Linked DNA regions of Homo sapiens. The protein of the gene in region 1 purifies or fractionates together with the protein of each later gene. This does not show direct contact. Each region holds a gene or a part of one and is shown on either strand. Other genes may lie near its edges.

Evidence for each region. The genes of interacting proteins can lie anywhere in the genome.
Region 2: the proteins of CEP43 (region 1) and PPP2R3C purify together in Homo sapiens (affinity purification with mass spectrometry; 5 studies listed by BioGRID and IntAct, with this or other methods). This does not show direct contact.

What each region holds. Positions count from the first base shown.
Region 1 is NC_000006.12:167,023,384-167,027,135, forward strand, and holds part of CEP43 (centrosomal protein 43), read left to right. Parts: intron 1-1,398; coding exon 1,399-1,511; intron 1,512-3,163; coding exon 3,164-3,232; intron 3,233-3,752. UniProt on the Homo sapiens protein: Required for anchoring microtubules to the centrosomes. Required for ciliation.
Region 2 is NC_000014.9:35,115,304-35,119,055, forward strand, and holds part of PPP2R3C (serine/threonine-protein phosphatase 2A regulatory subunit B'' subunit gamma), read right to left. Parts: intron 1,435-3,752; coding exon 1,307-1,434; intron 1-1,306. UniProt on the Homo sapiens protein: May regulate MCM3AP phosphorylation through phosphatase recruitment. May act as a negative regulator of ABCB1 expression and function through the dephosphorylation of ABCB1 by TFPI2/PPP2R3C complex.

The sequences.
Region 1 (3,752 bases):
ATACAGAGTGGCATCATGGTTTTTAGCCTGCAAAACTAGAAGGTTGGAAACACGTTAGATGAAGAGTGGCAAGAGCAAGAGTGGATTACACAGACAGGTGGCATGACAGCCTGGAGGCCCCTGTTGCTGTGCTAAGTTAGAGAAGATTGCTAGTGGAAATCCAAAGTAGGCTATTGAGTGTATGCGTTGGGATTGATGGAGAGGTCTGAGCTGGAGATGTAAATTAGGAGTCATCAGTTTGTAGATAATGTGGGGTGTGGGAGACTACAGAGGATCACCAAGGAAGCAGGTCCTGCGCACCTTGAGGCCAGAGCAGGGAGCTAGAAGCAGCAGAGGAGATGGAACCAGGAGAGTGGTGTCTGTGGAGGTGGCGGTAGGGAGGAGTAGCTGTATGATGCCGTTGGATTTAGCCATCTGGAGGTCAGTGATGACCTTGACACAGTTTTGTTGGAATGGGGGTGCGAGGCAGGTTAGAGAATTAGAGTGCATTCAAGACAGACAGGAAAGGATTGTAGATGAAAAATAGTTTTCTGATGAGTTGTAAAAGTGTGCAGAGGAGCAGGGTGGTGGCTGGAGGGGCAGGATTTAGGGCTGAAAAACGTGTTTAGGTGGGAGAAATAACAGCATGTATGCTGACGAGAGCTGTTCAGCTTTAAAGATGGAAGAATTAATGATGTAAGGGAGTGAGAGGAGAACTGGAGGGCTGCGCAGCAGTGGAATCCCATGCAGGGGCTTGTGTTTGCTGGAAAAGTGGAGAGCGTGTGGGTCTCATTGTAGGCAGGGGGTGGATATGATGGTGGCACCTGTGCAAGCTGTCACCTGAGTTCATAGTTGAGTGAGGATGGAGGACGGAGGTTGGAGATAAGAGGAGAGTGGAGAAAGCATGAAATCTTTCTATAAGAAAGTAAGGCGAGAAGGCACTGTGGAAACCCGGAGGGTTGTTGGGCAGTTTTAAAGGTCCCCTTGAGGTTAGTGGTCATGACTTTAAGGGGAGTTCATCAGCATGGCTGTTAGTGGCTTCTGTAAGCAATATTAAATCTGAGAGGTGGCACTTATTTGCTAGTAAACTCCTGTATTGTCCCTTGGCTGCATGTCTGGGTAATGGAAAAGGGCTTCCGAAAAAAATCACAGTGAAGAGGTCAATTTAGTTTATATCAAACAGAATTCTAAAGAGAGGTGAGCTGATTTCTTACGCCCTGGCTGTGCCGATTGTGGTTGATCTGTAGTTTGCACTCCCTTGGTGTACTTTATGGTTTTGAATCTTTAAAGTGTATATTCTTGATTTCCAGCCACCACACGTATAAAATATCTTTAAGTTGCTTTTGTTTCTGTGGCAGAATAAAAGTGTTTAGTGGCAGAACATAAGAGCACCGATTAACTGTCCTTGTTTCTTGTTAGGAGGAAGGAACCTAGGAAGCAAGCAGGAAGTCTGGCCTCGCTCTCGGATGCACCCCCCTTAAAAAGTGGACTCAGCTCCCTGGCGGGAGCCCCTTCTTTAAAAGACTCTGAGAGTAAGTGCCCAAAGATGTGGACTTCAATACTCGGGATATTTTTTCTCTAATTAAATACTATGTGATTATTGTTGATTTTTTTTCCCAGGAAAATCACTAAAATAACCTATCATTTTATCACTCAGAGATATTTCCTGTTAATATTTTGTTGTGTTTTGTTACTTCTAAGGTGGTCCTATTTTATATGTTGTTTTGTATTCTGGCCCTTCCTATACCTATATACCATCGGAATACTTTTGGGAAGTTGACTTTTTAGCTGATTTTTATTATCTATAGAAATAAAATTTTTAAATCATCTCTCCTTTTTTGGACATTTACAATGACTTGAGTTGGATTTGCTTTCAATTAATTTTTAAAAATTTGGTGATACCACAGTAAGTATCATAAAATGTTAAATAAAAAATTATTCTGCAGATCATTTTCAAGAACAGTGACCTGACATGTCATCGTAAATGCAGCAGAGCTAAAGAGCACTGGTTACACATGGAATAGTCTAGCTCTGGCACCAGTTACTTTCCCACCTCTCCCCACACACAGTGATAGGAATTTAAAAAGCATAGCCCTGAACATGTAGGATGGGCAGAGGTCCTTTGGAAACCGTATCATAGTAAATGTTGTATTTAATTAGCGTAGTGTTTCAGAGCACGTGTACCTCTTTTGAGAAAGTTTCCTAAAGTAGATTCACTAAGAATTTGCAGTATGCGTTTTGCATAATTGTCCAGTATTTCCGAATCTTTTTGTATTGCTTGATATACTGTGGGACTTCCTAGGGCACATAAGAGAGCCGGCCTGTTGCTTCTCTTAAACCAGCCATGTATTTATAATGTCCGCATCCCTTCCCATTTGCTTCTTTCCCGTGGTTACTGCCACCTTTAAGAAAGGAATCCAGGACATCATGAACATGTCATTCTGACATTGATTAGAGAATGATCATTTAGAGAGGACGTTGAGAACAAAGGACTAAAAAACCAGTGAGGATGTCACTTTAGTAAGTGAAATAGCAGTTGCACTGAAGAAAAATTTAGAAATTCAAAGGAAAAATAAGACTCATGAAAATAATTAACAGTCTATGAATTCATACCTAACAGGGCTGTTTATGGAAAGTGATGTCTTATAATGAGGCAAAAAATGGTTTTTGGTGGTTGTGTTCCAATAAAGTAGTATTGTTTATGGTTTAAAAAGGGATGTAGCTGGGTGCAGTGGCTCACGCCTGTAATACCAGCACTTTGGGAGGCCGAGGTGGGTGGATCACGAGGTCAGGAGTTCGAGACCAGCCTATCCAACATAGGGAAACCCTGTCTCTACTAAAAATACAAAAATTAGCTGGGTGTGGTAGCACATGCCTGTAGTCCCAGCTACTCGGGAGGCTGAGGCGGGAGAATCGCTTGAACCCAGAAGGCAGAGGTTGCAGTGAGCTGAGACCGCGCCATTGCACTCCAGCCTGAGTGACAGTGATGAGACTCCGTCTCAAAAAAAGGGTTGTGATGCATAGCTTAAGCGTTCATTAATCACAGTTTATTTTTTCCTTAGTTTTAGGTTATTATGCTCCTGTCATAAAGAAGCCCCATATTGAACAACGACAAAAATTGATGTGGTTTAGAGACTGTTATATTCTAAGTCACTCTAATGTTAATATTTTCTCCTGTTCACAGGTAAAAGGGGAAATACAGTTTTGAAAGATCTGAAATTGATCAGTGATAAAATTGGATCACTTGGATTAGGTAATTAGATTTCTAGTTTTTGTGCTGATCGTTTTAAAGTGATTATTTTTAGGGTAAGGCTGTAAAAGAAGTGACTCCGTCTGCCTACGCTGAGCACCTTCCTGCTGCTGCTCATTCAGCAGGTGTTTGAATGGCTTTTATGTGTTCAGGATTACACGCTATGCGAGAGATGGCTACAGCAACAGCCATCATGTTCTCGTGAACCTCTGTCTTCATGGAGTTTAAATTCTGGTCAGGAATATGAACATTAAACGGGCATCTACAGATATTTTGACTGTAAAAGGGTCAGTATATATGGGTATAGAAATGGCTAGTAGGTTACCTTTGTCCAGTCTTGGCATTCAGGGAAGACTTCTTATAAGAAGTGACTTCTGTGCAGAAGCTTCATGGTTAAGTACATGTATAAGAGAGAAGGGAAGATATTTCAGTTCAGACTGAGAAAAATTTGGGCAGAGGCAGAGCCATTTGCTAGATGCTGGTAGTACATGGTCCAGGCCTCAGAGAATTCAGTCTAGTGGGG
Region 2 (3,752 bases), on another chromosome or scaffold:
AGGTGCGCACCACCATGCCCGGCTAAGTTTTTTTTGGAGAGACACGATCTCACCAAGTTGCCCAGACTGGTTCTCAAACTCCTGGCCTCAAGTGATCCTCCTGATTTGATGGCCTCCCAAAGTGACAGGATTATAGGTGTGAGTCACCACACCTGGCCAACATTTTTTTTTTGAGACAGGGTCTTTGCTCTATCACCCAGGCTGGAGTGCAGTGACCCTACCATGAATAGCTTTTCTTAAGGTCTATTTTGTCTATACGTCCCTTCATAGCCATTTTCAGAGTTTTGGCACAAGGAAAAAATAATCAAGTGAAATTCCTTTTTTGTTTGTTTGTTTGAGACAGAGCCTTGCTCTGTCACCCAGGCTGGAGTGCAGTGGCGCGATCTGGGCTCACTACAACCTCCACCTCCTGGGTTCAAGTGATTCTCCTGCCTCAGCCTCCTGAGTAGCTAGGATTACCGGCGCGCGCCACCACGCCTGGCTAATTTTTGTATTTTGAGTAGAGACAGGGTTTCACCATGTTGGTCAGGCTGGTCTCGAACTCCTGACCTCATGATCCACCACCCACCTTGGCCTCCCAAAGTGTTGGGATTACAGGCATGAGCCACCATGCCTGGCCTCAAGTGAAATTCTTTAGGTTTTCCATAATCTATTTTTCGGTTTAGCCTTGAGCAAAATTTTAAAACTTTATAACAAAGTGTATACCTGATAACATAATCCAATAGAATACTTACTACTAATATCTATAATAAAAATCAGAAAGAAAAAGCCCACAGTTTAACAACTTTGTGTTTACATACCCACTTAAATCTAAACTTGGGATTTTATTGGGCTCAAAATGTTTTATAATAGTGATAAGATCAATTACAATAAAATAATATATAAAATTTAAAATATAATTCTCTATTTTTAAAACATAAAATTCTGGTCCTATTTTTAAAACTACTTTTTTTTCTGGGGGTGGGGAGGACAGGGTCTAACTCTGTTACCCAGGCTGGAGTGCAGTGACACAATCACGGCTCACTGCTGCCTCGATCTCCTGGGCTCAAGTAATCCTCCTGCTTCAGCCTCCTGAGAAGCTAGGACTACAGGCATGCATCACCATGTCCAGCTATTTTTTAAAAAATTTCTTTTAGAGATGGGATCTTGCTATGTTGCCCTGGCTGGTCTCAAATTCCTGGACTCAAGTGATCCTCCCGCCTCAGCCTCCCAAAGTGTTGGGATTACAGGTATGAGCCACCCTGCCTTGCCAAAAATTATATTTCATTTTTAAACTCTGCAGGACATTTGATTAGACACTACTTACCCTATAATAAAACCGGGGAATGGTCTTATAGAATTCATTTGTGTTTTTTCTACCTCCTTTCCATTCGGAGTAATATTTTGTAAATAAATCCATTTCTTCATCTTTTAATTCTTGTTCACTTTTTTTTTCTGGTAACAAAACAGATTAAGGGGAGCACTTTTAAAATCAAGCAGTACTTTTACTCAGGTCATCCTATATATTATATTAATAGTTTAATTAAAATAGTTGCAGTGCCAAAAAGGCCTTCACAATTGTGCTTAGACACTGAGCATATTAACTTTTCTGAAATACCAAGAATCACTACCCTCTACTGAAGCAGCCTCCTCTACATCTTCAACCATTTCTCATGCTCCCTCTACTTCTGTTTATCGCTAAAGCTAGTCTCTTCCTCAAATTACCTCTCCTACAGAACTCTGTAGAGTGCTCCTAATTCATTCAATGAAAAGAATTTACTGAGCACCTACTATGTACAGAGAACGCTGTAGTAGACACGGAATGAGGGGTGAGCAAGACAGCCCCAGCCCCTGACCTCATGGAGTTTCAGCCTCATAATCACTGTTTCTCTACCTAATGTAGAGAAAACAAACAAAAAAACTCATCCTCTGTCTGAAGCTCAAAACTCAGGGCTCTATTACCCTGCAACTCGCCTGCTATTGGCACGTGGCTGTCTCATTCAGCCAATTCCTCCCCACTTATTTGTGGACTATGGTGACTGGTACACAGTGTTCTTCACAAGGTCCTGCAATCATTTAGGATGAATAAACATTTATGTGGGTGACCATGGGTCCTGCAACTCCAAAGACTTTCACCTCTAGTTCATTCTGCCATTTGGTTCTATGACAAGATCACAGATTTTACTTGATCCCTTTCTGAAATCTTAAGCTCAAATATACTCTCAGATCATCCTTTCTGGTAATTCAAAACCTCACTGCCATACCATTTCCACTTCAGCCTCACTGAGCTCTTGAATTCTGTGATCTATTTTCTCAAAAGTTATTTTACTCTTTCTGGTCTCATTTCCTTCCCAACAAGCCTGTAATTGTTTCCTTGAATTCCTTTTATGACTGCATTTCTGCTGCATCTGTTAATTTTTTTTTTTTTGGAGATGGAGCTTCACTCTTGTTGCCCAGGCTGGGGCGCAATGGTACGATCTCGGGTCACGGCAACCTCCGCCTCCCAGGTTCAAGGGATTCTCCTGCCTCAGCCTCCTGAGTGGCTGGGATTACGGGCATGTGCCACCACGCCTGGCTAATTTTGTATTTTTAGTAGAGATGGGGCTTCTCCATGTTGGTCAGGCTGGTCTTGAACTCCTGACCTCAGGTGATCTGCCCACCTCGGCCTCCCAAAGTGCTGGGATTACAGGCATGAGCCACCATGCCTGGCCTATTATGTTAATTTTTAACCTTAGACCAAACCTATAAGTTAATTTCTTTACTATGGCTCAGTGCTGTTGTAGAAAACTGCAAAATTTTTCAAGCAAAGTCAAGACTGACAACTGACCACTGAAGTTAACAATATAGCAGTCACTGATGATTCTTGACAAGCAGGAATTCGAGACGAGTACAGATTTAACCAACAACTGTTTTAACAAATATTGCTATAAGGGGAACAGAAAAATGAGGAATGGCTAGAGGTGGAAATTAAGTCAAGAAAGTTTAAGATGGGAGAAATACCAGCATGTTTATATGCTGATGGGAATGATTAAAGAAAAACTGATGATACAGGAGAAGGGACAACTGCAAGAGTACATCCTTCAGCAGGCAAAAATGGAATCTACTACAAAGGATAGGATCTAGTACACTGATGAAGGAACCAGACTTACGCAGGTGCTGTACAACCTATATAATTTACTTATTATTTTATTATTTCTCTCCACACTAAAGTGTAAGTTCTACAAAGACAGAGATTTTTTTGTGTTCTGCTATAAGCTACAACGGTACTTGGCACAAAACAGGCATGCAATAAATATCTGCTAAAAGAATGCAGTGGGTTTAAGAGTTAAGGGGTCAAGAAAGCACACAAAGTACAAGTACAGGTACCTTCCTTTTTTTTTTTTTTTTTTCCGAGACTGAGTCTCACTGTCACCCAGGCTGGAGGGCAGTGGCGCGATCTTGGCTCACTGCAAACTTCACCTCCTGGGTTGAAGTGATTCTCCTGCCTCAGCCTCCTGAGTAGCTGGGATTACAGACACTTGCCACAATGCCCGGCTAAATTTTGTATTTTTAGTAGAGAGAGCGTTTCACCACGTTGGCCAGGCTGGTCTGTCTCCTGACCTCAGGTGATCCACCCACTTCAGCCTCCCAAAGTGCTGGGATTACAGGCATGAGCCACTGCGCCCAGCCAAGTACAGGTAACTTCTTTGAGAAGTTTTCCTATGAAGAGTGCAGAGAAATGCAACAGAAGCTGGAGAGGGATGTGGGATCAAATGACTTTTTTTTTTTTTTTT